Linked DNA regions of Homo sapiens: region 2 is linked to region 1. A link means that fine-mapping ties the variant in region 1 to the expression of a gene that starts in the linked region. Tissue or cell type: sun-exposed skin. Region 1 holds a variant in brackets; the other region holds the start of a gene. All regions are shown on one strand. Distances are between the middles of the regions.

What was found. PIP is the estimated chance that this variant, and not a neighbour inherited with it, causes the effect.
Region 2: RAP1GAP starts here. The variant in region 1 is the best candidate, but not a certain one, in a credible set for the expression of RAP1GAP in sun-exposed skin (GTEx, PIP 0.85).

The regions. Positions count from the first base shown.
Region 1 is chr1:21,626,468-21,642,166 of GRCh38, reverse strand. The region is part of intron 2 of RAP1GAP (RAP1 GTPase activating protein); the gene reads left to right. Among named protein-coding and RNA genes, the nearest start is that of RAP1GAP, 35 kb to the left of the region's middle. RefSeq lists enhancers at 1,696-2,525, 6,825-7,573, 7,574-8,322, 9,427-10,395. The variant C/A (reference allele first, on the strand shown) is at 9,921.
Region 2 is chr1:21,663,512-21,679,210 of GRCh38, reverse strand. It overlaps RAP1GAP (RAP1 GTPase activating protein), which reads left to right and starts at 9,854. Exons shown (of 25, transcript NM_002885.4): 1 at 9,854-9,957. USP48 (ubiquitin specific peptidase 48) reads left to right here. Exons shown (of 27, transcript NM_032236.8): 27 at 1-913. RefSeq lists enhancers at 7,935-9,134, 12,653-13,153 and a silencer at 9,783-9,932.

The DNA of each region.
Region 1 (15,699 bases):
TGGGCACTGGCCTTAGGCACTGGCCCTGAGAACACTGGCTTTGGAGTCTGATGGGCCTGGTGCCAGGTCCTGGCCAGTGACCTTGAGGAGTCCGTCACCTTGCTGAGCCTTGGCTCATTCCTTTGTGCAGTGGGGGTGTTCATGGCCCCTGCCTCACGGTGAGTGAGAGGCAGTGAGGAGGTGCTTTTAAAGGGCCGGCCGGTGTAACAATGCAGCTGTTTCTGACCCCATGCTGCAGGAGGGAAGAAACACATGCCTCGGACCCAAGTGACCTAGAGAAACATCACCCTCCCTCTCAGAGGCTCATTTTCATACCTATGAAATGGGAAGGTTGGCTGTGATACACTCTGATGTGCTGGGGTTCTAGTGGAGTTAGCTTGTCCCTAAGTTTGACCTGGTCCAGCTGTTTGCTGTGTGACATTGGGCTAGAGACTTAACCTCTCTGAACCTCAGTTTCCATGCCTGCAAACGGGCAATGTTCACCTCCTGGGATCTTTCAGGGCTTCCATTAGCCACTCGTTAATTCAACAAATACTTACGGAGTTCCTACCACATGCCAGGTACTAGTCTAAGAACTGGGGATGCAGCAGTGAACCTGACAGACACGGTCCTTGCTTCACGCATGTTATCCTCCAGTGCAGGAGACAGACAGCTAAGGTAGCTTCAGATGGGTAATGTGTAGTACGGATGGGGTGGGTGCAAGGCCTGGCTTTGCCAAGGGTATCAGGGAGGGGCCTCTCTGAGGCCTGAATGGGAAGGAGCTGGCTGTGGGAAGAGTAGTCCAGGCAGAGGGTAGAGAAAATGTAAAGGATTGGGGGCAGGAATAGGACTCCTTCCCCCGCCCCAAAGCTGGAACATTCCAGATCATCTCCTGGCAACAGGTGGAGGTGGCTGAGAAGGCAGAGAGGCTGGAAGCCCACTTCTTTCAGATCAGGAACTGCTCCCCAGTCAGGTGTGGTGGCTCATGCCTGTAATCCTAGCACTCTGGGGAGGCCGAGGTGGGTGGATCACCAGAGGTCAGGAGTTTGAGACCAGCCTGGCCAACATGGTGAAACCCTATCTTTACTAAAAATACAAAAAAAAAAAAAAAAATTAGCTGGGCGTAGTGGTGCATGCCTGTGATCCCAGCTACTCAGGAGACTGAGGCAGGAGAATCGCTTGAACCCAGGAGGTGGAGATTACCATGAGCCGAGATCACACCACCGCACTCCAGCCTGGCCAACAGAGCAAGGCTCCATCCCACACACACACAAAAAATAACTGCTGCCCACAAGACAGGCCCGGTGGGGTGGTGGGGAGTGTGGGCAGCCATGGAAGACCAGGCTTGGCTTGAGTCTCAAGTGAGCTGGGCTGTGCAGGCAGGAGGCTGGGCTCCAACCTGTAGGAGCAGGCAGGGGTGGAGCTCACTGCAGGGCAGAGTCAGGCCTCCAGCCTGGAGCCCACCTGACTGGATCTACCTGGCGCAAAGACCCTGGACCTATTTTAGTCGGGGGTAAGGGAACTGCTGCTTGTTCTCCCCTCACCCCAGCCAGCCTAGGCACTGGCCCCAGGTTGCCTTGGCCTTTCCCAGCCCAGCTGCCTGCAGGCTGAGGAAAGGTTCTTTGAGATGACCCATTACATGTACACACACACATATTTCCCTACTCACACTCATAGACTTGACCCTTGTAGAGACAGCTTCATCATGAACATAGAGGCACAGACATACACATTCATTCATGCAGCAGATCAGACCCAAACAGACCCAGGCATGACCTGAAGAAACCCCATTTCTAGCAGGAGAGACTGACAGTGGCTTAATGGTCACACCATGAAATGTGCAAACGCAACAGGTAAATCCATGAAGGCCCAAGACAGGCTTCTGGGAAAGCTGGTCAGGTTCGGAGCAGCTTCTCCTGGTCTGGGGAGGGGGCTCTGGAAGACTGAATACAGACATAGCACCTGAAATGTGATCCAAGCGGACGGGAAGGGGGTAACAGGCAGGGGGCACAGCGTGTGCAGTGGCCTGGAGGTGGGAAGGAGCACCTCGGGTTTGAGGAGCGGAAAGGAGTCTGGAGAAGGAGGAAAGAAGCCCTGGATGAGGCCAGAGACAGTGGGCGGGTGGGAGGGGGGCCGGGGATGGGGAGCAGACACGCAGGGCCTCGTGGGCCACGTGAGGCGGGCGTCTGGATCCTGCTTGCGGCGGGAAGCCATTGGGGCCTTCTAGGCAGGTGGGTGGTGTGATCAGATCCAAACATGCGACACAAGCGCTTTCCCTCCCACACCCATTCACGCTCCTGCCGGGGCCTCCCATCTCCATTCTCACCCACAGAGTCACACACACCCTCTCGCACCACCAGGCAGAGCTGCGGAACACCCGGTGCCGACTCCCAGGAAAAGTGTCAGACGCTGCCCCGCCCACCGGCTGAGTCTGTGCGGCAGGGCCCTGGGGTCCAGCCAGGGTGGATCCTTGCTCACTCCACATCCGCACAGATGTGCCTGTGCCCCCCGCCTGCCCCCACAGGAGTGAGGTCATAACTCTTCTCTACACGTGCAAGGTGGCTTCTAGCTTAGGACGTACTTTCACGTGCATTCTCTCATTTAATGCTCTCAGCAGCCCTGCAGGGAGAAATTCTCAACACCATTTTATAGCCGAGGAAACAGAGGCTGAGAGAGGTGAAGGGACTCTCCCTAGGCCACACAGCTAGAGCTTGGCACAGGCAGGATTTGAACTCAGTTCCGTTTGACTTTCAGGTCTTGTTCTCTGGCCCATCCAGACTCAGACACACTCAGGTGTGACTGTCACCTTTCCAGGCTGTCACTGAGAAGGTGACAAGTGACCTTCAATGCCAAATCCATCCACAAACAGGTTGATCAACACAGAAAGTTATTTAGAGCTCCAGGGAAGGGCCTGGGCTGGGACGTGCCCACCTGCCTGGTGACCCTGAGGCTTCTGGGGGTAGTGCCAGGGGTGGGGCTGGGCACCTGCCAGCCTGGGGCAGCTCAGGGCATGGAGCCCGCGCTAGGAGCAGAGCCTACATTTGCATTTACAAATGAAGTAGACAGCCCTGTCCCCACACATGCTAACCCGGCTGGCCTGGCTTGCAGGACGTGACAGCTGAAGTCACAGGGCACATCCCTGGGCCCAGCTGCCTGGGCCACTTCTGTGCTGCCTCTGCTCTTCCCTGACCCTCGGAGCAGGTTGTCTAATGCCTAATGTAGGGGAAAGAGTGTGGGCTTGGGAGCCAGCCAGAATGGGGGTGCAACCCAGCTCTGTGACGCCTGGCTCAGGGACATTGGTCATGGTGTTTAGTCTCTTTTCGTGTCAGCTTCTCCCCCTTGGAATAAGGGGTGAGTCATACCTCCCTCTCAAGGTGATGGAAAAGGGTAAAGCAGTCAGGTGCTCAGGGAGCTGAGTCATAGTGAGTGCTCAGCTCTCTAAAATCTTTAATTTTTTTCTGATTACACAAATACTAAGTGTTCATTATAAACATCCAAACCGTGCAGAAAAGTATTTGCCACAGAAAGCAGAAGTTCCTAGTGGTCCTGCTTCTCAGAGATAAGCCATGTAAACTTTCTTTTTGTTTTTGTTTTTGTTTAAAGAGAAAGAGGACGGACAGACAGACACAGCCCAACTGGGCTTCATCCCACTCAAAATTCTGAGGGCTTTTGGGCCTCAGGGTCCCATACGCAGCAAGCCCCTTTTCTCTCTCTCTTTTTTTTTTTTTTTTGAGACAGAGTCTTGCTCTGTCGCCCAGGCTGGAGTGCAGTGGTGCAATCTTGGTTCACTGCAACCTCTGCCTCCTGGGTTCAAGCGATTCTCCTGCCTCAGCCTCTTGAGTAGCTGGGATTACAAGCATGCGCTACCATGTCCGGCTGATTTTGTATTTTTAATAGAGATGGGGTTTCACCATGTTGGTCAGGCTGGTCTGAAACTCCTGACCTCAAGTGATCCACCTGACTTGGCCTCCCAAAGTGCTGAGATTATAGGTGTGAGCCACCATGCCCGGCCTTTTTTTCTTTTCTTTTTTTTTTTTTTAATAGGATCTTGCTCTGTTACTCAGGCTGAAGTACAGTGGTGCAATGTTGGCCCACTGAAGCCTCAACCTCTCAGGCTCAATCAGTCTTCCCACCTCAGCCTCCTGAGTAGCTGGGACTACAGGCATGCACCACCATACCCGGCTAATTTTTGTGGTTTTTTTTTTTTTTTTTTTTGGTAGAGATGGGGTTTTGCTATGTTGCCCAGGATGGTCTTGAACTCCTGGCTCCAAGAGATCCGCCTGCCTTGGCCTCCCAAAGTGCTAGGATTACAGGCGTGAACCACCACTCCCGGCCAGCCATGTAAACTTTGACATGTAATTTTAAATTTTTACAAATGAGATTTTTGTTGTGTGCAGCCCGCTTTATTCACTTAACAATATGCCTCAAACCCCCTTTTCCATCAAGACTAAAGACCTTCTTTGTCATTGCTGTATAGTATTCCATGGTTTGATATATTTAACTAATCTCCTTGTAATGGACATTGAAGTGGCGTCCAGATGTTTGCGGTTGCAAACCCTGCTTCATGACTTTTTTGTTCATATATCTTTATGCATTGGTGTTATATTTCTGGAGAATAAATGCCTAGAAATGGGGTTGCTGGACCAAAGAATATGCACATTTTAACATCCATTGCCTCTGCCCTCAGTTACAGGGATCCTAGAGTCATCAAGAGGCAAAGAATTCCAGATGTGGGGCTGGATGCAGTGGCTCACTCCTGTAATCCCAGCACTTTGGGAGGCTGAGGCAGGTGGATCACTTGGATCCAGGAGTTCAGACCAGCTTGGGCAACATGGTGAAACCCTGTCTCTACAAAAAAAAAAAATTAGCCGGATGTGGTGGCATGCACCTGTGGTCCCAGCTACTTGGGAGGCTGAGGTGGGAGGCTTGCTGGAGCCCAGGAGGCAGAAGTTGGAATGAGCTGAGATCTCACCACTGCACTCCACCCTGGGCGACAAAGTGAGACCCTGCCCCCAACCACCACCAAAAAAAAAAAAAAAAAAGAAAAAAAAGAATTTCAAATGTGGGAGGCACCTTGAGGTCCTCCAGTCAAACCCCCCACCGCTCCTCCCGTTCCCACACCTTCAGATCTCCCTGGCTGCACCTCTGAGAAGCTCACTCTGCCTTTGCTTGATGCAGAGCTCGGTACCTTACATGGCAGGTTGCTCAGGTTGCTTTCCCTTCCTCCCTCCCTCCCTCCCTTCCTCCCTCCCTCCCTCCCTCCCTCCCTCCCTTCCTTCCTTCCCTCCTTCCTTCCTTCTTTCCTTCCTTCCTTTTCCCTCCTCCTCCTCCTCCTCCTTCTTCTTCTTCTTCCTTTCTCTCTCTTTCTTTCTTTCTATTTGAGATGGAATTTTGCTCTTGTTGCCCAGGCTGGAGTGCAATGGCATGATCTCGGCTCACTGCAACCTCCATCTCCCGGGTTCAAGTGATTCTCCTGCCTCAGCCTCCCGGGTAGCTGGGATTACAGGCGTGCGCTACCACACCCGGCTAATTTTTGTATTTTTAGTAGAGATGGGGTTTCTCCACGTTGGTCAGGCTGGTCTCAAACTCCCGACCTCAGGTGATCCGCCTGCCTCAGCCTCCCAGAGTGCTGGGATTATAGGCATGAGCCACCATGCCCTGCCTAGGTTGCTTTACTCTTGGGCAGCTGTGTTTGTCCCATCGTTTCTACCTTCTCACAACTTCCACCTAGGAGTCTTGTCTCAGTCCTCAGGCACCTACAGAGGAAGGAAGAAAGGAAGGAAGAGAAGGGAAGGCCAAGAAATGCTCATGGTGAATGTTAAGCACTTTACACCAATGAACTCATTTAACCCTCAGAGGTCAGCACTGCTATCCCCATTTTATAGATGAGGAAGCTGAGGTTCATAGTGGTTAAGTAACTTGTCCAAGGTCACACAGCTGTTATGTGGCAGAGTTAGGATTCGCACTCAAGGATCTGGCTCCAGAGCCCACACTGACGCTACACTGCCTCTCTAGGCAGGAGCCTGTAATTTATTGAGCACCTACTGTGTCCTCAGCTCTAGGCTAGTCAGGTTGTCCATATAATACCTAATTTATTCCACACAACAACCCTGCAAAGTTGGTGTTACTCTCCCATTTTGTAGCTGAGGAAACTGAGGCTCAGAGAAGAGAAGCGACTTAGAAGAGTCTAAGGTCCTCTCCACTGGGAAAGCCCTCCTTCAGGGTTCTGCTTCCAACCAATCCTTGGTGAACTCAGTTTCCAGTTTCTCATCCTCCCATTCGTCCTCTGTAGGATGAGAGAGCCGGCCTGAGACCCAATTTTTAGTAGAGAAACTGAGGCTTGGAGAGGTTATGGTGACTTAATCCTGCACACACTGTGATCTGGGGGCAGAGCTAGGGCTTCCCCATGTCACCTTTGGTTAGGAGATGGTGACCTTGTCTATCCCCGTGGGGGTTTCGCCTTGGCCTGGGTGGTCACCCCGCCTGGGGAGTTGTGAGGGGCAGGGACTTCTGCTCACCAGACTGGCCTGGAGCCTATGAGGCAGCAACCCCAGCCCCAGCTAGGGCTGGTGCAGAGCGGGAGGAAAGGATTAAGCAAGGCCTCAGTGCTGGGGGACTCACTGTCTAGGCAGTGAAGCCAGAGGCTCCTCAGGAACAGTCCAGGCAGGTATCTTTGGGGCTCTGCTTTGGGACTGGGGAGGCCTGGTTCACCCCACTCTGATCCCAGCACCCAGCACCATTGTCCACTCCAGAGCAGACCTCAGGACATGTGTTCTGAATGAATGACTGAGCAGAGGAATGAAGGGCAGATGGGGGAGTGGGTAGATGACCGAGTGGGTGAGTGAGCGAAGGAATGCCTGGAGCTCAGAGAAGGGAGACCCCCTGGGCTGCGGAGGCTGGGGAGGGACAATGAGGTCAATGTAGGGAGTGAGGAGAGACAGAAAGCATAGGCGGCTGTAATACCATGTATGGGCTGACGGGTGCTGGGAAGGTCACCCTGGCCCAGACTTGCCCATCAGTGGGAGCTGTGTCCTGCGTGGACGTGGGCAGGGGGCAGAGCAGCTGGGGCTGAGCTTCGGGGTGGAAGCTTGGAAGTCACCATCTCCATCCAGGCTCCAGTTTTCTTCCAGGCAGAATGGAGATTAGCATTACTGCTCTGTGTTCCTCAGGAGGCTGTTGAGAGGGTTGATGGCAAAGGCAGTTTGTAAACTGGAAAGTGCCAGGCTAGGGAAGCAGATGATGTTGTTGCCCGGCAGGAAGAGGCCCTGCGGCCGGGTCATCTCAGAGTCACTCCTCCTCCTTACCCCAGTGCAGGGGAGGAGTCAGTCCACACTGAAGTCCTCGGTGGGGTGGGAAGGGTCAGGTTTTGGCCACAGTGGGGCTCAGGCCACCTGAGCAAGGGAGACAGATGCTGGATAGACAGCAGGTAAATGGGTGGCCTGGTTCCCAGATGCTGTGCCCTGGGCAGGGACCGGTCCCGTGACCACCTCTCTAGGCTGCCAACCTGTTATTTGTTCAGGAGGCCTCTGCCTGGCCCAGCTCCGGGATCCGGGTGTCTCGGCATGCAGCCAGCATGGGGCGAGGGTGGCGGCCCCATGTGCCACCTTCCTGCCCATCCCTCTGCCCAGCTTGGGGCCTGAGTCTCCCACCCACACCCCCAGGGGGACCCTGCCAGCTCTGTCACTTGGTAGCTGTTGAGGCCCTTGGCCCATCATAAACCTCACTAAGCCTCTGCCTCCTTATCTCTGAAATGGGTGAAGATAGCATCCTGAGGTCAGGGTTGTTGTCATAAGGATTGAATGACATCACAGTGCCCGCATGGCAAATAGTCCCCCTGCCGCTCCTCTACCCCATCGCCACGCTCCCTCTAGAGTCCTAGGAGAGGTCAACGGTGCCCAGGGAAAGGGGACACAGGAGCCTCCCGTGCCTGTGCCTGTCTGCTTAGGCTCCCAGTGGGCTGGGGAAGAGGGGGCCAGCCTCTCCAGACCTAGCTTTGGAAACCTGCTCAACTGGCTGCCCCGGCCACCTTCCCTGGCACTTTGGCAGGGACAGGGGCAAGCCAAGGGGAGGGCAGTGCCGGCTGGTTGAGCTCAGAAAACAATGGGCTTCTGTGGCCCCCCCCCCCCCCCGGGAGGGGGCAGTTCTGGGGCAGCCACTTGGTTCTGGTTTCAGGAGATTCGAGTCCCCTCAGACCCGATGCCCAGGGCTAGGAGACCCGGCTCTGGCAGCCCCCCAGCCCTCATCCAAAGGAGCCTCTCTCAGGGTTGCCCTCCACAGCCCTCTTCTCACTGGGAGGTCTGTGCCCTTGTCCTCATCCTCCACCCCACATGGGTGGTAGAACTTGGTAGAACCAGGTTGATCTCCTGGAAACCAGGAAGACCCCAGGGAACTGGACCCAGGCCTTCCCCTCCTGACTTCTGATGACCAGTGCTGGACTGGCCGGAACCCCTCAGGCCCCTGTTCCAGGCTGCTGCCCCCAAAAAATTCTTCTCTGCCCTGTATTCATTGGCTCCCTGAACCCCTCCCCCGCCCTTCCAGACCACTCCCTCTTTCCGTGTCCGGTCTCCCAGCCTGTGTGCAGTGGGTGGCTGTCCTCAGGGTGGGCTCCTCCTGCTCTTGCTCCAGGCACTGTCACCTGTCCAGATCCCCATTCCCCTGCTCCCGGTCCCAGCCTTCTTGCCTTGATGGTCCTGTACCACCTGCCCTGGCCACCAGAGTTTCACCTGGTTGAGTTGAATTTCAAAGCATCAATGGTTCACTAGGCAGAAAAGCAGGAGAAGGCACCCCCAGCAGAGGGGGGGTGCCTGTGAACAGTGTGGCTGGTTAGGAAAGCTGCCTGCAGCCTGGGGAGGTTAGGACAGAGCCAGGACAGGCGGCTGGGGCAGGACAGGAAAGGGGAGGTATGAGGTTGAGGCTGGAGGGAGTCAGCAGGGGCTGGACCCACTGGGAGACCACCATCCAGGGCAGCTATCTCCGGGGGGCCAAAGGGCCAAGCCCACCACCCAGGACAGCCCCACCACACTTCTGGTGCCCTGAAAAGGTTGGGCTCTCCAGGAGAGTGGCCAGTAATAATAATTACAAGCACTTTATAGCAACTCTATGAGGTGGGTACATTATCTCTCATTTTGCAGATGAGAGAAAAAGACAGGACCCTCTCACCACCCCTCCAGCTGGTTAACAGTTGAGAATCACCCTAGGAAGGCATCTGGCCACCTGTGCTTGGTCTCCCCCTCTGCCCAACCATTCCTGAGTCTGACCCTGATGTTTTGTTGGTCTGTTTCCATTGTATAGATGGGGTCTTGCTCTGTCGCCAGGGCTGGAATGCAGTGGTACCATCATGGCTCACTGTAGCCTGGAACTTCTGGCTCAAGTGATCCTCCCACCTCAGCCTCCTGAGTGCCTGAGACTATAGGTGTGAGCCACTGCAGTGGGCTGGGTTTTTAATTTTTTTGTAAAGATGAGGGCTCACTTTGCTGCCCAGGCTGGTCTCGAACCCCTGGCTTCAAGTGTTCCTCCCACCTCAGCCTACCAAAGTGCTGGGATTACAGACATGAACCACTGAGCCTGGGCTGACCCTGCTGTTTTGCAGAGTATGGAACTCTCTTGAGATCTTCCCACCCTGGACTGGTGGAAGGCCTGTGTTCTTATCCCTGATCTGCTGCTCACGGCCTTATTGGCTGACTTTGAGGTCGTGTTTTCACCTCTCCAAGCCTCAGTTTGCCCTGCTGGCAATTGGGGATCCTAGTGACTGCCTTATCTCCATTCCAGTTCCGGTGAGAGTCCCAGGAGTGAGCAGATAAAGAAGGCTTTTGAAAAGTACAAAGAACTGCACTCACGATGGTGCGATTATTATTGTTACCTCGATGCAGAGATAAGGGAGGGGGAGGAGGTGCAGTGACAGTTGCCAAGAAACCGGGGAGCTGTCAGCAGCGGCTTCCGGC[C/A]GGGCCCATCCCACTTAGGAGCTGGGCCCTTCCCCCACACCCTTGCTTCACCCTTTCCCTGGAAAAGATGGGTGCTCTCCCCGAGAGGGAGAGATAGCTGCCACACAGACACAGGGGCTGAAGGTGACCCCGGAATGTGCCTGGCCCAGACTCCAGGTTGGCTCCAGCTTTCCATGTGACCTTGGGCGGGTCACCTCCTCTCTGGCTGCTCCCATTTCATGTGTCAGAGGAGGCAGCGTGCAGGTGTCCAGGCCAGACAGAGCAGAGCCGGAGCTGGGCCTAGGGAAGGCGCTTGGCGGTGGCTGCAGGAGCCAGGGCCGTGATGGGAGGTCATGGGGCAGGAGGCCAGGTGACGGGACTGAGGGCCTGGGCTGAGGACAGTGGGATGCACGCTGTGGAAGGGACACTGGACTGGAGTCACATCTCAGCCCTGCCCTTTCCCATTGTGCGACCTGGGGCTTGTCACTGAACCTCTCTGAGCCTCAGTTTTCTCATCTGGAAAAAAGGTTTATATCTCATCTGGATTTCTTTTTTGTTTTTTGTTTTTGTTTTTGTTTTTTGAGACAGAGTTTTGCTCTTGTTGCCCAGGCTGGAGTGCAATGGCGCAATCTCGGCTCACTGCAACCTCCGCCTCCTGGGTTCAAGCGATTCTCCTGCCTCAGCCTCCCAAGTAGCTAGGATTACAGGCGCGTGGCACTACTCTCAGCTAATTTTTGTATTTTTAGCAGAGATGGGGTTTCGCCATGTAGGCCAGGTTGGTCACGAACTCCTGGCCTCAGGCGATCCACCCGCCTCAGCCTCCCAAAGTGCTGGGATTACAGGTGTGAGCCACCGTGCCCAGCCTCATCTGGATTTTTAATAAGTTGCTGTGGCTCTGGAATGAGACAATGCCAGTGTAAGCTCCAGGGTGCTGCACAGATGTGACCACGGTCATGGCAGGGGGAAGGAGGAGAGGGGAGAGCGCCCCATGTCCCGGCATGCTCTGGGCTCCCCGCAGCTGCTGCCGCCCAGGAGGAATGCAAAGCATTTTAAGCTGAGCCAGGCCAGGGGGTTGGATGGTTTTTGGAGACGTGGGGAAGGGATAGAGACCAGGGGGACATCCATGATGTGAACTGAATGGAGAAGACCAGGAGGAGACCAGGGTGGGATAGGAGAGAGAAGGGGAGGGACAGAGAGGTTCGGGTTCGTGAAGTGGGAGGAAACGACCACATTGTGGGTGGTCTGCAGAGGCCAGAGGAAGAAGGGGATTGGAGGGGTGCTGGGAAAGGTGGGGCAGAGATGGGCGAGCTGGTGAGGAAGGCTGAGCAGGAAAGGACGTGAAGCAGAGAAGGGCAGAGGGCTGGTGAGGAGGGAAGAGGCTTTCATTCATTGCTTCAAAAGTATTTATTGGGGCCAGGTGCAGTGGCTTATGCCTGTAATCCTAGTGCTTTGGGAGGCCAAGGTGGGAGGCTTATTTGAGGCCAGGAGTTCCAGACCAGCCTGGGCAACACAGCAAGACACCCATCTCAACAACAACAACAAAAAATTTATTTTTAATTAGCCGAGCACACACCTGTAGTCCCAGCTACTAGGAGGCCGAGGGGGAAGGATCACTTGAGCCCAGCAGTTCAAGGCTGCAGTGAGCCATGATCATGCCACTGCACTCCAGCTTGGGTGACAGAGCAAGACCCCATTTCTTAACAACAACAAAAGGTCAGGGGCAGTGGTTCATTCCTGTGATCGCAGCACTTTGGGAGGCTGAGGTGGGAGGATCTCTTGAGCCCGGAAGTTCCAGACCAGCCTGGGTAACATAGGGAGACCTCATCTCTACTAAAATTAGCTGGGCATGGTGGTGCCTGTAGTCCCAGCAACTTGGGAGGCTGAGGAGGGAGGATGGCTTGAGCCTAGGAGTTTAAGGCTGCAGTGAGCTTTGATCACGCCACTGCACACCAGCCTGGGCAGCAAGAGCAAGATCCTGTCTCAAAAAACAAAAAAAAAAAAGGGAAAAAGAAAAAAGTATTTATTGAGCAACTACTATTTACTAAGTGTCAGTGGTATAGTGTTAAGGGCACTGCAACCAGATGTTGGGGGAGGTCAAATCTTCAGACTTTCATTTACTGTGTGTGACCTTGGACAAGTTACTTAACCTCTCTGTGTCTTAGTTCCCTCCTTTGAAAAATGCAAATTAAATGAGTTAATACAATAAAGTAGAGCAGAGCCTGCACATAGTAAGCTCTGTATCAGCTGTGTCGGCCGTTGCTGTTGTTACTATTACCTTTCCGACTTGACTTGAGGTGCTGGATCGTGTTCCTGAGCTGGAAGTCGTAAGGCTCTGTGGGGAGGTCCACAGGATTGGACGTACATGTTATAAAGTTCAGATCTTGGGCTCTGAAGTCAACAAACCTGTGTCCAAATGCCTGGCCTGCCTCATTGCCTGTGTGAGCTTGGGCAAGTTAACGCACCTTTCTGAGCTTCGTGTGGAAAGCAGGAGGTTTCTGAACATCTGCCTCTTTGGGGAACTGTGAGGATTAAATTAGATTATGCAAGACGCCCGGCAGGACGTGGCTTTGTCATTCCTGTCCCTCTTCTACCCCTTCAGGTCTGGGGATGGATGGACAGGCAGTGCCCAGAGCCTCCAGTTTCCTTCTCTGTCCCCATCCTGGAGCCCCTCCCTTCCCCTGCCCCTTACGGCCTCAGCAGTGGCTTTTTAGGTGGAGTTGCCTTCGGGGGACAGGACTGTGGCCAGCCAGGAACTGGAGAGCCAAGGGCCCTGGGATGGGGTCCCAGGTGCAAGCCAGAGCACCCTGGCCTTCAGAGGCCGCTCTGGTTCTGCACCCACATGAGCAATCCTGAGTGAAATGGACACCTACACATGGGGAGACTGAGGCAGAGAGGGTTCTGGAAGGGGGTTTGTCAGGGACTGCTGCATGGCTATCATATGAGCCTAGGGGAAGACAGAAGGGCACCGCTGGACTAGCCTGATCACAAGCAACAGCCGCCACTGGGCAGCCACGGCCGCACCCAGCACTCCAGCTTTACCGGGCTTCTACCCCAGGACTTCCTGACCCCCAGGCAGCCTCTGCCCTCCACCCCACTGCAGGATCCCTACTTCCTCTAGGGCATGTACTTTAAATTCCAGCTCCATCCCCCATTCGCTAGGGGAAGTGGCTTCACCTCTCTGAGCTTCAGCTTCTCCATCTGTGAAAATGGAGAGAAATAACACCAACCTTCCTGCACAGTAGTTGGGGGAGAGTATATGCTTGACGCAGTCCCAGTCACATAGTAGGTCTCACTAAAGAGTCCCCATGGGAGCCTCAGTGGAATTGCCTGGAAGCCACCCTCCCTCCCTTCCTCCCTTCCCCCCTCCTTTTTTTTTTTCTGAGGTGGAGTCTCCCTCTGGAGCCCAGGCTGGAGTGCAGTGGTGTGATCTCAGCTCACTGCAAACTCTGCCTCCCAGGTTCAAGCAATTCTCCTGCCTCAGCCTCCCAAGTAGCTGGGGTTATAGGTGCCCACCACTGTGCCCAGCTAATTTTTGTATTTTTTTTATTTGAGATGGAGTCTCACTCTGTCGCCAGGCTGGAGTGCAGTGGCGCAATTTCAGCTCACTGCAACCTCCGCCTCCCGGGTTCAAGCGATTCTCCTGCCTCAGCCTCCCAAGTAGCTGGGACTATAGGCGTGCACCACCATGCCCAGTTAATTTTTGCATTTTTAGTAGAGACGGGGTTTCACCATGTTGGCCAGGATGTTCTCGGGATCTCTTGACCTCATGATCTGCCCACCTCGGCCTCCCAAAGTGCTGGGATTACAGGTGTGAGCCACCACGCCCAGCCTGTATTTTTTTTTTTTTTTTTTTTTTTTTTTTTTTTTAGTAGAGATGGGGTTTCACCATATTGGCCATGGTTGGCCAGGCTGGTCTTGAACTGCTGACCTCAGGTGATCTGCCCGCCTTGGCCTCCCAAAGTGCTGGGATTACAGGTGTGAGCCATCACGCCCAGCCTGCCGGTAACTATTTCTATGGACCTCTCTTTAGTCCCCACCCTCCCACTCCAGACTCTCCCCATGTCAGTGTACCCTGCAATATGCAGGAACCTGTGCGTAGGGATGTTCCTTTGCTCACAACCCTTCAGTGACTCCCAACCTTCATTCATTCATTCAGTCATTCAACAAATAGTGAAACTTGGGGAGCCAGAGTTTACCATGAACAAATGATGTGAAAGTTTTCATTGAGTGAATTCCCATGAGCTGCCCAGGCTCTGCGATGAATGTTTTTGGAAACTGAGGCTGAGAGAGGCTGTGTCACTAACCCAAGCTCACCTAGCCAGTCAGTGTCTGAGACTATCTCCCCCACACTGATGCCACAGGCTTGAAATGCCACTGCCACCATATCTGTCCTTTTGGGTCAAGCATTGCCCAGCGCAGACCCCTCTTGTAAGATGCCATCACTCCTGGGAGGTGGAGAGGCCTCCAGTGCATAAGTGGGGCTGTGGATGGTTCCTCCGGGCCATTTCTCCTGCTGGAGTAGCTGGGCTGAGTGGAATTAGAAGGGAGGCTCAGACTGGGCGCAGTGGCTCACACCTATAATCTCAGCACTTTGGGAGGCTGAGGCGGGCAGATCACCTGAGGTCGGGAGTTCGAGACCAGCCTGACCAACATGGAGAAACCCCGTCTCTACTAAAAATACAAAATTAGCCAGGCATGGTGGCGCATGCCTGCAATCCTAGCTATTCAGGAGGCTGAGGCAGGAGAATCGCTCGAACTCGGGAGACAGAGGTTGCAGTGAGCCGAGATCAAGCCATTTGCACGCCAGCCTGGGGAATAAGAGCGAAACTCTGTCATAAAAAAAAAAAAAAAAAAAAAAGAAGAAGGGAGGCTCACAGCTTTCTCAGTCTTCTTCCTGGGCCAGACTTTTTCGGGTCCTTCCCCTCTTGGGGTGTGGCAGCCCCGGCTCTGCCTGACTCAAGCCTGCTGTAGGCCACCAGCGATCATCTGAGTCACCCTCGAGGGACCAGCCTCTCTTGATGGGACCTGAGCAGAGGTGCAGCCACGTCAGGGTGGCCCTAGGCAGCAGCGGAAGCCAGGCCTGCTTGCCCAGCCCCAGGATCCCGGGAACCACTGGGCATTTCCTCTCCCTGCCCCAGAGGTGGCCTCGGCAGGCTTTTTAGGGTGATAGGAGCTGACTTCACCCTCGCCAGACCTGCTTTCTTTCCTCAGGGAAGGGTGTGGTGTGGGCAGAGAGTCCGGGCTTAGACTCAGGCAGGTCTCATGCAGATGCTAGCTTTGCTGCCGGCCAGCCGTGTGACCTCTGTGCACAGCTGGGTCCTGTCTGTAAAGTGGGAATACCAGTGTGGTGAGGAGGCCATGCCCTCGGGCCTAGAACGAGGGCTCAGCACAGGGCCTGGCATGTGGTAGGCCCAATGAGCGTCAGTTATGGTCACGGTCACTGTCATTCGTAATAGCGGTAGCCCTGGTAGCCCCTCAATGCCAAGGCGGCTACTCCCAGAGGCTCAGGGAGGGGTCCATTGTAGAGGCGGGGGCACCCTGCTTAGTCCAGAAAGCTCACCCTCCACAGCAACCCTCAGTGCCCCTGCCTCAGTCTACTCATCTTCAGAGTAGGTCACTGCTTGGCTGGAGGCCTAATGGAGAGCTTGGGGAGAGACCCTGTCCACGTCTCTGATCTCCGGGGAAGGAGAAGCCTGTGTGGTAGCCCTGCTAATGAAGCCCCTCCTCTCCCTCCTCTTGGGGAACCCATGACCCTCTCCTCCGTGAAGTCTATCCTCCCTCACATCCCCCAGCTCTGAGA
Region 2 (15,699 bases), 37 kb before region 1:
TTTCCAATTTTATATTTAAGGGGGGTGGTGGGTGGGAGGGGGCAAGTAAAGACGGAACAAGTTTAGTAGCAGTAATAGTAAATCATGTTTACATATGAGATTTATAGTCGTGGGAGGGGAATAAAGTTCTGTTATATTTCCTTGCTCGAGTTTCATACCAGATGCGTTGGTCCATAAAGGATTGTATCAAGTAGATGGGACAACATTCTGCTCTGAACGAAAAGTAATTTTAGAGACATAACCTGCTTACCAATGCCTGTCTTTGATTCATATTCTACTTTCAATAAAGCATGAAAGTGAAGAACTTGTCCTAAGTGTGGAAAAGTGTCTTCAGATTTAGACTCTTCTCCATGTCAGCTGCAGCGCCACCCGCCTTACACCTGCCCGGCCGTCTGTCTCTTGGTATTGGGTAAAGGAGGGGGCACCTGCATGTCTCCTGCAATGAGCAAGGAATTATGTCTCATGTTTTGACTTCAGAGGCTTTTTGCTTTGGTGCATTTCAGAAAGGATGGAGAACATTTATTATGTGTGAAAGCATCCTCTTCCGGTTTTGCTGTTATTCAAAAGTGGGAAATGTACCTGGCACGTTTGAAAATAAAAAATCTGACTACCTATCAGAAGAGTAAATCAGACTGAAGTACATTTGGATAACACAAGGTTTCTATAAAATTTGTTCTTCCTGTCCTCCATGTCACTGTTTCTTGGACCTCAGTTCTCTTTTTGAAAGCATTATTCCAAAATGCCCTGAGAGGGTCTCTTAGATCATTGTTTAAAAAAGGAAAAAAGTATATGGATGTGCTGTCCATCCAACTCAGGATTATCATTCTTAGCAACACGTAACCGAAGCAATATTCTTAAGAATATTGAAGGGGTTTTTTTAATTGAACTTAAGACTGGAGTTTTTCCTTTGAAAAAAAAAAAAAAGTTTTCTCTGTTGAGTCCGTCTGTGTAAGTTTGTGGCTGAGATGCTAGCTTAGGCATCTCTCTTGTTAACACTTTTCTTGGCCTTGGGTTTGTGCAAGGCTTTTTCCCCCTTTCATGAAAATGTGAACTCAGATCATGGATGGGGAAGGCAGATTTTGATTTGAGACCCGATAACCTTGGCAGCATCCCTTTTGAATAGCTCCTTTTGTCAGAGTAATTACGGCCATTTGGTAAAATTCTAACTTCGTGTTTGTGTTTCCCCTCTGTGTTTCTAATGTCTTCAGTCTGTGTCCCCTGAGGAGGCAGGGGGTCTCTAATGAGCCTATCTATGGGGGAAGGTGAGAGCTGCACACAGCCCCCTGAGAAACCATCCTAGGAGTGGAACCAAGGGACCAACTGTTCTGGCCTTGAGGTTGGCACAGGGGAAGGACTTGAAGTTGAGCTGATGGATCCTGATTTTTAGATCTCATTGTTTTATTAGCTCCAAAGAAATGAATGCAGGAGCCTAAAACTAATAACACAAACTTCTTCTTTCCCAAGGTAAAGACTTTTATAAAAGTTCGCACAATGCTTGATTGAAGCCACTTCCTTTTCCTTACAAAGAAGCTTGTTGGCCAGAGAAGGTTCTTTTTGGGGATTGACATAAACATGTTAGCAGCCCCCAGAAATCTGATATATTTTCCCCAATTTGCTGTTGATAACAGTTTTGAAATTTGTTACTTGGGTATTTTTTCCTCCTGCAATGCTACGAAATAACAGCCTTTTGTAAATCTTTCAGGCTGGTGGTACCTGCTCTGAGTACTGGCTTCTTTATTATCTCTGTCCAGGGGTGGGGTGGGCACCGAGTGAGCAGGTGATGCTGCAAGAGTCTGCCCTTGGCTCAGGGTCATCTTCCTCCTGCTCTGACAACTTGCCTTGTTCTGCCAGCACTGCTGAAAGTAACTGCAGCCCAGCGGCTCCAGTGACACTGTGAAGCTTTATTACCAAGGCAGGAGCTCAGGCCCTAGACCCGCTGAATCGGAATCTGCATCCACAGGCCACTCCTGTACTCTTTGAAACCCTGGGCTTGGGGCCTCTCCCACCCATAGTAGGCAGAGTTGCAAAGAAACGTATGCTTGTATTGAATGGTTTTGCATTGCCACCCTTCTCACTTGGTACAGGGAAAAACAGGTAAAGGGTATGACCTAAAGCCCGATTCTCGTTTCGTCTGTAATTATGAATAGATGGAGTCCATTTGCCTTCTGGACTGTGAAAAGTTCAGAGACTCTTTGTGTTGGGGTTCTAATGCCATGCATGTGTACTTTTTTATATTAGATCAGTCTCCGGTATAAGGTATTATGAAGCTTGGGTCTTTTCCCCTTGATATTTCTGACCATTCTTTAATCTGAAACGAATGTGTTCAGCATACTACACTGGTACAGATTGTCACCACGAACTGAAATATAGGCTGCATTTGGGTGTCTTCATTTCCTGGGGAGTAAGTATCTTTCTGTGTATTTATGAACTCTATTGTTTAGAATTACTGTTACCTTCCTGCCAAATTTAAAAGATATGAGTGTCCCTTTATTTCTGTGGGAGCATAATCCATAGTGAATTTTTTGGTTATTTTAAATGTGCTTTTGGTTGGTCTATGTGGTCATAGATCTGTTCATCAGACTCTGGTTAATATTGGAATCTAATGCTCAGGTTGAATAACCTGTTTTAAAAACCCAAGGGATGATTTATCTCTGTCTAAACAAACCGCTGAAGCGAAATGAGCAAGAAAGCCTGTCTTTCCTGTTACCGAATCATGGGGCAGAATCATATCCTTTCTCTTGGGTACTTTAGTCCTCAGCTCATTCAGTGTTAATAGGGGACTGCGAACAGAGTGCATGCAGATTAAAAGCCAGCGTTTTCATTTTAAGAAGATTTTCCCAGCCTGAGAAACATAGTGAGACTTCATCTCTATAAAAAAGCAAAAATTAGCCAGGTATGCCGGTGGTCCCAGCTACTCTGGAGGCTGAGGCAGGATAATTGCTTGACCCCAGGAGGTCGAGGCTGCGGTGAGCTGTGATCACACCACTGCACTCAGCTTGGGCGACAGAGTGAGACCTTGTCACAAAAAAAAAATGTGCATGTCTGTGATAACGCCCCATACTCCCACCCCCACCCCAGAGTACAGGGTTTTGTCAACAACATTTCTACTTCTGAAAGCTGGCATCACCACCCCCACCCAAAACACACACACACGCGCGCGCGCACACACACACACACACACACACACCCATCTCCTAGACATTCTGTAGGCAGAAATACTGGCTGGGGATTTATCAACATTATTCGAACCCTCTATTTTTCATTAAAGTACAAATTATAAACATTTGTAAAATGGTAGGTAGCACTTTGTTGATTTCCCTGAGCAACATTTCTGTGTCAGGTAGTGTGTGCCAGGTAGACAGTCTCATTGGCAGACAAAACCACTTCTCCATCCCATATATCTCAAACCTTGGATTTTTTTTTTTTTTTTTTTTCCATTCTGGCTGTTAATTGGGCTAAGGAGTCTGCTAGCTATCCAGATAGCACATAAACATACAGGCAAGTGTTGAAAGTGTGGAGTTGTAGAAGTTGGGCCACCTGTGTTACAGATAATTTCACCATTTACCTTGTAACCAAGAAAAGTGACTTAATCTTGCTTTACCTTAATTTCTTCATCTCTCAAAATAGCAGTATTTGCTATTTTTGTTTACTACACTCAGAGGATTAAACAGTAATAAATATTGTTGAGGTAAAAGGCTTTGTATTTTTCTTTGCATTTAGAAGAACTGTTGCCTTTCTGAGGAAATGCTGTTGGAATCTCTTTTGCAAGTCTTCAAAAAGAGGCCTTGTAACCACCTAGCAAAGCTACCTGGAGCATCTTCTCTGAGAACTTTAGAAACTACCTTTTACTTCAAGCCCTTCCAACTAAAATGATAACTAGACAGGTGTTCGACCATCCTGTCACATAAATCTTTTCTCCTGGCCCATAAGAATAATGAAGCCAATGGCCAAACTGCAAGCCTTCTCAATTCGGTGTTTTTTTTGCAGGGTCATGTCGAAAGGTATTTGAAACACGCTTAGAATGCATGTTGAAGATTTATGTCTCCGTGATGGGCAGTTTCTGCCCCAAAGGGGCAGCTTCAGTTGTTTTGATTGTCATTGCTAAGAACATCAGGAACAGATGTCTCGAGCTGCCGAGGCATGGCTCTGCGGGCACTGGGAAGCAAAGCCATGCGGAGGCCTGTGGCTGGTGCTCAGAGGTCACTTCCTGGTCTGAGAATTGCGTTTTTCATTATTTACCTGGTGATACTTAGTGAATAATATCGTTCAAGGGTAGAGTACACGAAACAGGTATTTCTTACGTCTCCCCTCCCCCAACAAATGACAGAACCAGTTATCAAATAAATACAAGATACTAACCATGTGAGATTTCTGCATGTGGTAAGGTTTAATATCTCTTTGAGCCTCACTAGATTTTAGGAAGGAGGAGGTTGCAGAATTGTGGCTTGCCAGGAGTTGTATGACCTCTTCAAAGTGACATTAGTTTAACTTTGTTTTATTTTATTTTAATTTTTGAGACTGAGTCTTGTTCTCTCACCCAGGCTGGAGTACAGTGGCACAATCTCGGCTCACTGCAATCTCCGCCTCCTAGGTCCAAGCGATTCTTGTGCCTCAGCCTCCCGAGTAGCTGGGATTACAGGTGCCTGCCACCACGCCCTGCTAGTTTTTTTGTTTTGTTTTGTTTTTGTTTTTTGTTTTTTTTTTTGAGGTGAAGTCTTGCTTTGTCACCAGGCTGGATTGGCTCACTGCAACCTCCACCTCCAGGGTTCAAGCGATTCTCCTTCCTCAACCTCCCAAGTAGCTGGGACTACAGGCACGTGCTACCACGCCCAGCTAATTTTTGTATTTTTAGTAGAGACGGGATTTCACCATGTAGGCCAGGATGGTGTCGATCTCTTGACCTTGTGATCCGCCCGCCTCAGCCTCCCAAAGTGCTGGGATTACAGGCATGAGCCACCGCGCCCAGCATTTTTGTATTTTTAGTAGAGATGGGGTTTCACCATGTTGACCAGGCTGGTCTCGAACTCCTGATCTCAAGTGATCTGCCCACCTTGGCCTCCCAATGTGCTGGGATTACAGGCATGAACCACCGCGCCTGGCCTGGTTTGACTTTAGAATTGGGACCTGCACCAGCTTGTAGTGGATTGGGCCTCTGCTGTGTCTCACCCAGCAGAGACCAGACCAAGGTTGCTGCAGAAGGGGATCCTACTGCGGAATGGGCTGCATCCCACAAGCAAAACACGGGTGGCAGGCTGGTCCTTCTCATTCCATGAGCTTTCACGCTTGTCATTCATGAGGCTGTGAATTCCCCCTCAAGTTAGCCCTAAGAGCTTGTCCAACATAATTACTGTATTGATCTCAAATAGAGGGCATCATCTGTTTCTCCCCAACATGCTTTAAAAAAAAGGGAAAAAAACCCTGCTTTCAAGGACTTGGAGGGCCTTTGAAGTGAAATTGCTCTCGGACAGGGAGGGAGGCAGCCTTATAACAGCAGCTGGAATGGCTGCTTGAATTCCAAATCTGCGTTAGTGCTGCCAGGCGAGGCAGGCCCTCAGCCACAGGAAGTGGGGCACGCACTCCAGGGAGGCCAGGAGGCCGACGCAGCCACTGCCTGGGTTGGATTGTTGCCTGCTGGCACACTGGCCTCTGCACAATTCTATCTGGGTTTTCCTTTCCCTGGTGCTCTGGTGTTTTGTAACCAAGGGAATGCTAAGCTGCAACCAGTTCCTTTTATGATCCTGGACAAGTCTGTTCCCCTTTGAGCCTCGGCGTTCTCTCTGAAAGGAAGTGGGATGTGTAGAAGTTGTCAAACATGAACTCCGTGGAAGTAGATAGTGGGGCCTCCTCCCACACCCACCTACTCCCTTGAGGAAGCTCCAGGCAGTACATTTGGAAAGCTACCAAACAGGACTACCTCTCAGGACTTCTCTTGTTTTATTAGTCTCTGAGCTGCCTCTTTGGTTGGTTTATCTGGAGTTTTTGTAGCATCTTCTCACTCATCCACAGCATGTCACTTGTTCTCTGGATGAAGGAGGCTCCAAGTCATGCTAGACTGTGGAGTTCTGGAACTAGAGTATACTGTTTATTTCCTGTACTGGAAGCCAGAGTTAGGGCCAGGCTGGATTTTATGTCTGCACCTAAAACCATTCAGTCCCCCACAAATGAATCAACCTAATTAGTGCTAGACTGTTGTAGCTCCCTGAGAGCAGGGCTCTGGCCATCTTACCACTGTATTCCCACAGCGGCCCGCATGATACATCCTCAGTAAGGAAAAATGAATGACTACTTTGGAATCTGTTAGAAGTTTTCCCGTGGCCCCTTGGGGGAGAGCTCTTTTTACTACTTTGGTTTGACCAGTACTGTCCCTACCTTCAGGCTTTTCTTCTTTGTCCTCAAAACAGGGACTTCCTAACTATTCATGATCCAAAGTCCTCTAACCCCAGGGGTAGTCTCTGTCATGTCTGCTGCACCAGGTTGGCAGCCTCCCACCCAGACGGGGGCCGCTGGCCCTTCCCTGATGCGTGTGCCCTGGCGCCGACTGCCACTCTTCATCCTGCCTTGCTGTGGTTAGAGTGGAACTGTCCTCTGCTCCAAGCCGCCCCTGAAGCCCACCCTCCTTGCCGGCCTTTCCTAGACCTTACCTGTGGCTCTGTGGACAGCACACCTTGAGGACTTGCTGCTTTGGGGTTTTCTTCCCCTACTTGCTCTGGTGGGCAGTTCCTATCTCAGTTTTTCTCCCATTTGATCTGACTGGGAAGGAGTGGGCGGGCAGAGATGGGGAGTTATTTCCAAGAGGCATCATTCCCATTTTAGGACTGTTCCCCCCTCCCTCACCTGCAGTCTCATGCATTATTTGGAGTTTACCGTGGTGCCACCCATGTTTTCGTTCTCCAGCCTTTTTGGATGCCAGATTTTTAAAGCCAGCTTTCATTTCTCAGTGATAGGGAGCACAGAGATGGTGGCTGGGTCGCAATGTATTAAGTGTCTGAGACAAGGCTTGTGCCCAGAGGCAGCCATGCGTGAGTGGTCAGTCCTGAGTGGTTTGGATTGAAATAGGACAGGGAAAGCAAAGCTCCGGGGCCTTTGTCCAATCTTCCCCCTCAGTAGCTAGGCTGCATGCCAAGCTCTGTGCCCAGCCCCCTACGGCACGTGCTGCCTCCTCGCCAGGGGCCCTGACAGTCTCAGAATGGTGCCCCCCAGGACACATGGGAGATTATAAGCCTCTTGCATTGAGGGAGGTTTTCTGTAAAGGGGAAAATGCTGTAATTGAAAAGCTCCTTGATTATAAAGAAGAAATAGAGACGCCTGGCATAGAAGAGACTTCGTTCTTTGGTCTGCTCAGCCAGGGTCGGGGACATTCAGTACCCCCAGGCTAATAGGCTCTTGAGCTCTTAAGGACCTTGGAGTCTGCAGGTCCAGACTCCAGAAGGTTATGGGACCATGAAGAGGTCACACAGCTGTACCCCTTGGCTTGCTGCATTTCTGCATCTCCAGTGCCTCCATCTGCCCCCTCCCTCCAGCTCAGGTGGGACACCTTTGTCTCCACTCAGCACTCTGGGATGTACCATCAGCAATGCCTGGCCAGAATTGAGGGTCTCTGTCTTAAAGCGTGGAGGAGAAAGGGGCCCTTTTGGAACAGGAGTTAGGGAAGCAAGAAGCATGAAGATTGTGCTCAGAATTGAATTCAGGGAGCAATGCATAAAAAAGCGAGAGGATGGGTAGAGAGATGGTGCTTAAAAGGATCCTGGAATCCATGTACTTCTGAGATCTGTGAGCCCCGCCCCTGCTGAAGATGAGCCAGCCCCACCCAGTACATGCTGCCCTTGAAGGTCTATAGGCATTCTGCTGGCATTTCCTAAGTAGGATGTATTTGACCAAGCATCTCCCAGGACCAGAGCCCTGCAGGACATACCTGTCTAGGGCAGTTGCTATGCCCCACAGTCCCTTCACCATCATCCCCAGAAGCGCCTCGGCCAGCCTCATTCAACTTCTTGCCTTTTTATTACAGTGTTTGAGCCAACTATATAGTCCTGGTGTATTCCTAGGCAGGAGATCAAAGGGCCCCCCGGGTTGGGTGGTCCATGAGTGAGCATGTGATACCGCAGGAGTCTTCCTCCTGCCCTGACAACTTGCCTTGTACTACCAGTGCTGCTCAGGATGTCTGCAGCCACGAAGCTTCATTATAAATGCAGGAGCTCAGGCTCCAGGCCCACTGAATCTGAATCTGAGTCTACAGACCGCTCCTGCACTCTTAGAAGTTTGAGAAACCCCCCTGGGCTGGGGTCTCTTTCCCATATACAGCTAGGGAAGCTTGCTGGAGGGAGGACTGAAAAGAACAAGTGCCTGATCTACCTTCCCCTCTGCCCTTTCACAGGTGGGTGGATGCGTGGGAAGAGGGTGGGGCATTTCCTGCTATTCCCCCTTATTCACCTTTTCTCCACGGGGATTAGAGTCTTGACCGGAAAACATGGCTCTGGTCCCCAGCCCCTATGGGACTGAAAACCCGGAGGCTTGCATGTCTCAGATCCTCCAGAGGCTGATGTAAGAGTTGCTGAAGACCTCGGATCTTTCCTTTTGTGAAATGCAGCCCATGTGGCCGGGAAAATAGTGGGAGCTGGAAGTAACAGTTGTGGTTTTAAGCACACAGTAGATGCTCAAGAAATATATTGAGTACATGTCTTGGACTTTCCCCTCCCTAAATATTATCTGTCAAGTGGGCCTATTGGACTTGTTGACCTTGGAGGGCCCTGTCGGCTTGACCCACCAATTCGAAATGGTTGAGAAAGAGGTCTGTCTTTGTACCTTTTGCAGCCTGTTTTCCCAGTTCTTAGAACATTGGGGTGAGATCCAGAGATTTCAGAGATCCCCCTGGAACACGAGTGTTCTGTGACGAGTTCATGACCTTGGAGCCACCAACCATACCCCTCACCCGTTGTCCCCAGTTCTGGCCTTGCCGACCCACTGCGTGTTTCTTTGCTTCATGTGGGCTGTTCCCCGGGGAGGGAGCTCAGTGGAGAACAGAAAGAGGTGTGGGTGAGGGCTCCCCCTTGGTGGGGAGTGGGGCACAGGAGCCTCAGGCTCTGTTGACCATCAAAGAAGGGACTCGAGTGGGCAGGCCGCTCACTTGCTGTGGACCTTGGGCAAGTCTCTAACTCTCCCTGGGCCTTGGAAGTCAGGCCGAGGTGATCTCTGCCGCCCCCTCCCTGCCTGGGTTTTCACTCTTGTTCTGATCCCACTCTCTTCCGGGTGCCTCCCTTCCACTTCTCCGTAGCCTGTGGCTCCCCTCCCCACACCCGCCCTGGGCCCGGGTTAGGCTGGGGCGGGGGCGAGCTGCCCAGTCCAGAGACAAAGTCCAAGAGCCGCGAATGGGCTGGCGAGGGTCAACCGCGTGGCCTCTGCCAGGAAGCGCGCCGAGCGCCCGGGTGAGGAGGGCGTCAGCCAGGGCACAGCAGCTTTCTCGCCCAGCGAAGCCTGTGCGCCTTCCTCCCGCGCCTGCAGACAAGCGGAGCCCATGGGGGCCGTGGGCCCCACCTATCCCGACGTCTCCACTTGATCCAGAAGTTGTCCCAGTCCCCTTGGAGCATGAGCTGTTGCCTGGACAGCTGGGCTGTCGCCCAGGTTCTGCCACTGTCTAGCTGTGTAACCTTGAGCCAGTCCCTGCCCCTCTCTGGTCCTCAGTTTCCCCACCTGTAAAATGGGGGCACCGAGAACCCTCCTCCAGGACCTGCGGCGGGGCGGGGCGGCAGGGCGGGGGCCTCCCCGCCGCTCCCGCGCCCGCGGCTTGGGCTCCGCAGTGAGTGGGGAGCGGCGCCGGGGAAGGAGCGCTCCGCGGTCATGTGACGTCCCCCTCCCCGAACTGCGGCGGCGGCGAGCGCCGGCCGCATCTGAGCAGAGCTGCAGCGGCGGCCGCGGGCACCAGAGTGCCGAGCCCAGGACGCCCCCGGCCCAGGCCCTTGGGTGAGTGCGCCCCGCCAGGGCTGCGGCCCTGGAAAGGGGAAGGGGACAGAGGTGTCCAGACTCCCGTCGGCTCGCAGCGAAGACCCCGCGCGGGCGGGCGGGGACGGAGGGTGGGGGCGAACGCGTGGGGGACCCGGGTCTCCAGGGGCGAGGGGTGGGCGCAGCTGGGCTCGCGCAGCCCGGTCTTGACAGCAGCTGGAGAAGTGGGGGGAGGCCTGGACTGAGCCGGCTGAACCCCCAGCCTGTTGGACTTGGTCCAGGCCGCGGCCAGGGGGCTTTGGTCCCACCCCCCTGGGTGGGTGGGGAGTCCAGTTTTCCGCCCACCTCGAGGTGGGGGCGCCTGGGGTTTAGAGGAGGGACTGTGGGAAGTGGGCGCGTTTCCTCCATCCCTGGGGAGGGGCCCAAGCCCTAGCGCCCCCCAGAGGGTGGCGCTCCTGTCCTCAGAGGAGGGAAGTGGGGGCCTCAGATCAAGGACCCTGAGCGGGGAGGGCGGTGATGTCCTTGCATCCCCAGAGACAGGACGCATTCCCCTGTCCCTGACCCCCGCGGCAGAGCGGGGCACACGCGTCACGAAGTTGGGCGCCCCCTCGTCGCCTCCCCTGGCTCGGCAGGATCTGAGGACTCGGTGGGAATTCACGGGGCGGTTTCCGTGCCCTGCAGGGTTTGGTGCCAGCTGCGGGGCGCCTGGGCTTGGGGAAGAAACCTTGTGTACGCACACCTGCACACACACACAGTCTCCGGAGGTGAGCGGCCCCCTCCCTACCATAACAGACCCCAGCCTGTGCATGCCCTCGGAGTCCTTGTTGGGGTCATAGCACAGGCCCGGTGGTGGGGTCAGGAAGAACATCCACTGTTCTCAGGGCTCATTGGCCTCTGTCCCCGGGCTCCATTCCCCTCCCTGCCAAGTCAGAGGTCAGGCCCCTGGGGCGGCAGGCAGGAAGGACACTGAGGGAAGGGGCACTGAGGCAGGAGGGGCACTGAGGGAAGCTGGCCAGGTGGAAGTAGGAGAGAAAGGCAATGGGGGTGAGATGGTACCACTTCCTCCCCATATGAGGCTCTCAGGAGGCTCCTGGCCCCCCCTGCACAGGTAGTGGTCCCTCCTTCCTGAGGGTGTTTGGGGGAAAACGCTATGGTTGGGGCACTGGGGAAGGTTGCCTCGCAGATGAAACAGAACATTGGCCAAAGGTGTCCCTGAATGGGCTTCTGGACTGGCACAGGGCCCTGAGGGCTGTGGCTGAGTGGGGAGGCAGTGATCAGGTCCAGCTGGCCATGGGGGCCCCCCATTCCCTTCTCCATGACCTCAGCCTCACTCTGAGAGCCCCCAGCAGCTGGAAGGTCTGGTAAGGGGTGCGTGTTCCTTGATGGCCTTGGGAAGGGTTCCAGGGTAATGATTAATCCTCAGGTGGCACGAGCAATTTCCCCCTTCACAGCAATATTTCAGGGCAGGCGCTGAAGCCTCCATTGCACAGGTGAGGAAACTGAGGCTCGGAGAGGCTAAATGAACTGCCTGAGGTCACCTAGTCACCTTCAGCAAGGTCTAGAATCGTGGTACTCTGACTCTTGATGGGAGAAGATCTCCACAGCGGTGGAGAGGAGGAAGGGTGAACGCCGTGGTGGAGTGGTCCATGTGGACCTGCTCCCCTTTGCTGCCAGGAGGTGAGGGTGCCTGTGGCTGGAAGCTGGGTCAGGTTGAGGAGAGGGTCCAGAGTCCTAGGCTTGCCTTGCCACCCCTTCCCATGGAGGGAGGGTTGTCCCGTGGAGCACCATAATGGTGCTTTCACCCTGGGACCTTCCCAGCTTGCTTGGGCAAAGCCCTCTCCTCTTCTCTTCTTCCCAAGGTGCCTGCCTGGCAGGGGTCTCAGGAGGCCCCTCTCCTGGCTCTAACTACCTTCCACCCTTAGGAGACAAGAAGGATTCTTCCTTTGGCCTCTTGGAGGGCAGCAGGGAGAGAGGTCTCTGCCACTTAGGCCTCAGGCTCCCACAGCAGGGCCTCCACCTCCCTCTCACCTGGCCCTGCCCCTGCCCTGCTGTCAAATTCTGGGGCCAAGAGGCCCTTTGAGGACTCCTCGGGCAGATCTGTCCTCCATGCTGCCATCTGTCTACGGAGGCCTTTGTCCTGGCTGTCAGAGGCTGCTGAGCAGCCGCATGTGCTGTGCAAACAACCGAGACCTGAGCACGGCCAGACACAAACGCAAATACAGTTAGACTGACAGATACCCTGAGACCCAGACACAGGAACACACGGGCACACCCAGGCCAAGACCCCTGCCCCCGACTCTGCCTGACACACAAGCACTGAGAGTCACACCATCCAGATGCTGGCACGTGTGTACACACAGAGAGACGGAGGTTGTCAGCAAGGAGAAGAGCCTTTTCAGAAGCCCTCGTCTTCTGTCGTCTGCCTCCATTATCTCCTCCAGGGTGCACACATGGTACACGCGCATGCAGGAAGAACACGAGGATGCCCTACGCCCTTAAAAATGAACCTGGCAGACACGCACATGCACCCACCCACACCCAGGCCATCATGGGTGCACACACGCATGAATTACATCAGCTTCCTGCGTGTGGGATGTTAATGCTTCATCACCCGGGGAGGGGAGTGGAGGCCCCCGACCGTCCCCAGCAAAGCCTCCCCTTCCTCCCTCTTTTCTGATTCATGTGGACCCAGCTTGACTGGCCCCAAGAATCCTGGGAAACTGCCTGGTGCTTCCCACTCAGTGGACCCTCCTCTCCTGCCTCCCCTCTGTGTACATACCCAGCGGGTTGCCACGGGAGCCTCTCCCCAGGCTGCTCCTTTGCTGTCTCTGAAGGTGTTGTTCTGCAGGTCCTTCCCAAGACAGGACAGGACCCAGTGCAGGCTCCAAGCGGCTCTGGGGTTCCCTTTCCTTTCCACTTTTGCTAGAGGCATTACCAGGCCCCAGTTTCTGCTTTGTCCTCCCAGCAAGGCTGGGGGCCAGCTGGTGTGAAGGGAAGGGAGCCCTCAGCACTCTCTGCTCACCTCCTTGCATGCCAGGACCTCTGCCAGGCTGGCCCTGGCACCCTGTGCCTCTGAGAGACTGGCGCTGTGGAGAGGTGCTTCTGTGGGCTTAGGTGAGGCCTCCAGGGCAGACATGCTAGATGGGGAGGGGCTCCCAGCTCCACCATGCTCCCTCGGCACTCACACCAAGCCTGCCAGAGTGCTGATTCCCTGTCCAAGCCTGGCCCTGCCTCTTGCTGGCTGTGTGGCCCGGACAAGTCATTTTCCCTCTCTGGGCCCAGCTCCAGCTCTGGGAGGCAGCTCAGCCTGGCTGGGGGATGAGGAAAGTCAGAGGTGTGAGGTGGCAGCCCTGTGCCAATAAGGAAAGGAAGTTGGGCTCTGGTGGCAGTGTGGGCCCATGGGGCCCCAGGCTGATGACTTCCTGCAGAGTGCAGCCTCTGGATCCACACTAGGGCCAAGCAGGGGTCGCCAGTCTCAGGGCTTCTTGGGGCGGCCACCCTGGGGTCAGCCCAGGAGGAGGGTACCCAAGGGCAGTGGGCTGCAGCTATGTTGCTCACATTTGTGGACATTTTATGCCTCAAAATGTGCTCTATATTTAGGGCTAAAGACCAGCACTGTCAGGCAGGTGGTGACTCAGAGAGGAAGAAGGGAAAAGAGGCAGAGGAGTGCTGGTGGGGAGACACCCCAAAACAGAAAGGTCCCACTGGGATTCCAGCCTTTCCTACTGCAAGAAAGGAAGCAAAACATGATACTCCTGCTTTGCACCAGCACAATGGGAGCAGCCTCGTGTGCCTACTCACTAAGCATTTAATGAGCATGTAGTGGATCCCAGGGACTGTGACAGGCACTGGGGCACAGAGATGAGCTGGGTCCTGTGGTCCCTGCCACAGCCCGGTGCTTTGTGTCAGATGAGGAGGTGAGGCTCAAAGAGAGAAAGTGACTTGCCCACTCTACAGGTTAATACCTCTGCCAACCGAGGCCACCCTCCCTCGGACCCCCATTCGGAGGAAGCAGACCCAAGTTCGAATTCTGACATTGCCACTGAGCAGCCGTACAACTTTTGGTGAGTTCCTCTCTCCCTCTGAGTCTGTTTCTTGATCTAGGAAGTGGGAATCATAGCACTTGCCTGATGAGTATGTTTCAAGGGATAAGAAGGTGAATGCAAGCAAACACTGAGGGCAGTGCCCAGCTTATCCTAGGCATTCTGCTGGGTCTAAAAGGACATAGATTGGGAGTCCTCAGAATGCCAAATCCAGTCTCTGCTGTGTGACTTTGGAAAAATCACCTGCCTTCTCTGTGCCTCATTTCTTTCTCCCTAGAACGGGGATGACGAGCTTTTATTTGCCTGCCTCCCTGGGGATGTTGTTTGCGAGGCCAGACATACTGGCTGGGAACTGCTTTGAAAAATATAAAGCTGCACTCAGAGAAACACAGAGAGACACACTGAAGGAAAAGCAAACACAAATCTGGAGAAAAATCTTTTCTAAAAACATCCAATACTTCTCTACAGCCAGAAAAAAAAAATAATAAGCCTTTTCTTCAGTGTTTTGAGAGTAGTGAGAATTTTTTCCGTAACTTCGCATTTCCAAAGTAGTTGGCATGGCTATCACCAGGTGAGCTGGGTAAGTTTCCTCCTTGAGGAGTCCTTGCCTGGCACATATTAGGTGTTCAGTAAGTGATAATGTTAGTAGTAGAATTACCAGTTGCACAGCAAGAGGAGAAGTGGAGGCGCTCCTGGAGGCGAGACCAGCTACGGCGTGGGCAAGGGCTGGGGGTGGCAATGTGGACACTGGGTTGGATTCATGGAAGGTGGGGGTAGGGACAAATCGGGGTCAGTCTATTAAGGGCCTTGAATGGCAGGCCGAGGAGTCTGCATTTCCCCAAAATCAATGCAGGATACACGGGAGGGGCAGGCTGAGCCCACTAGCCTGGAATGAGGAACCACCTGGCGTAGTTCTCTGCCCTGCCACTGCTGTGTAAGGATGGCCCCCTCGCCTGTTTCCCTGGGCCTCATTTTCTCCCAGTGTGCAAAGGAGAGGATTCCAGCCTCTTCCATCCCAGGGGCAGGCAAGAGGATCAAGGCACCAAGCCACCCGGGAACTAGGTTGCTATGAGAGCTGGAGAGCCGGGGGCTGTCATTGGTTCAGGAAGTCAGGAACCTTGTGTTCCGCTTCTGGCCCCACCCCACTAGCTGGGTGAGCTCAGGCAAGCCGCCCGGCCTCTTTGAGCCTCCCTTTCCATCTGTGGAATGGGAGGATGTAGTTTCTGTCTTTGCAGTACAGCTCCCATGAGTTGAAGCTGGTGACTGTGTTGTGTGAGCCTCAAGTGTGTTGTTGTATCTCTGGGGGAATTGCAGTATTTCTTGAAACTACAGTACCTGTTCCTCAGACTCCCCTGAGACGGTGGATCTGCTGGCAAGGCTGGGGTTTGGGGGCAGTGGGTGAGGATCAGATGCCTGAGCCACCTCAGAGGCTGTGACCTTCTCAAGGCCACGGGAGCCATGTGTCTGCCGCAGCCAGGCTGTGGGGGCAGCAGAGGGAAGGTGGAGGTGGGGCAGATGGGTCCAGCCCTCTGCTTGGCTCCTGAACTCTGGGCCCCAGTTCTGCGAGGGAAAGCCACCCCAGTACCCTGCTCAGAGGACAGCCCTCTCCAAGGCCTCACTCCTTGATTCAGGGCTCGAGGGGTAGGGTGGAGGTGGCTGATGGAGGGTGACCTTGGGAACTTCTTCCTGCCTGCAAGCTCGGTGCCAGAACTGCCAGGGC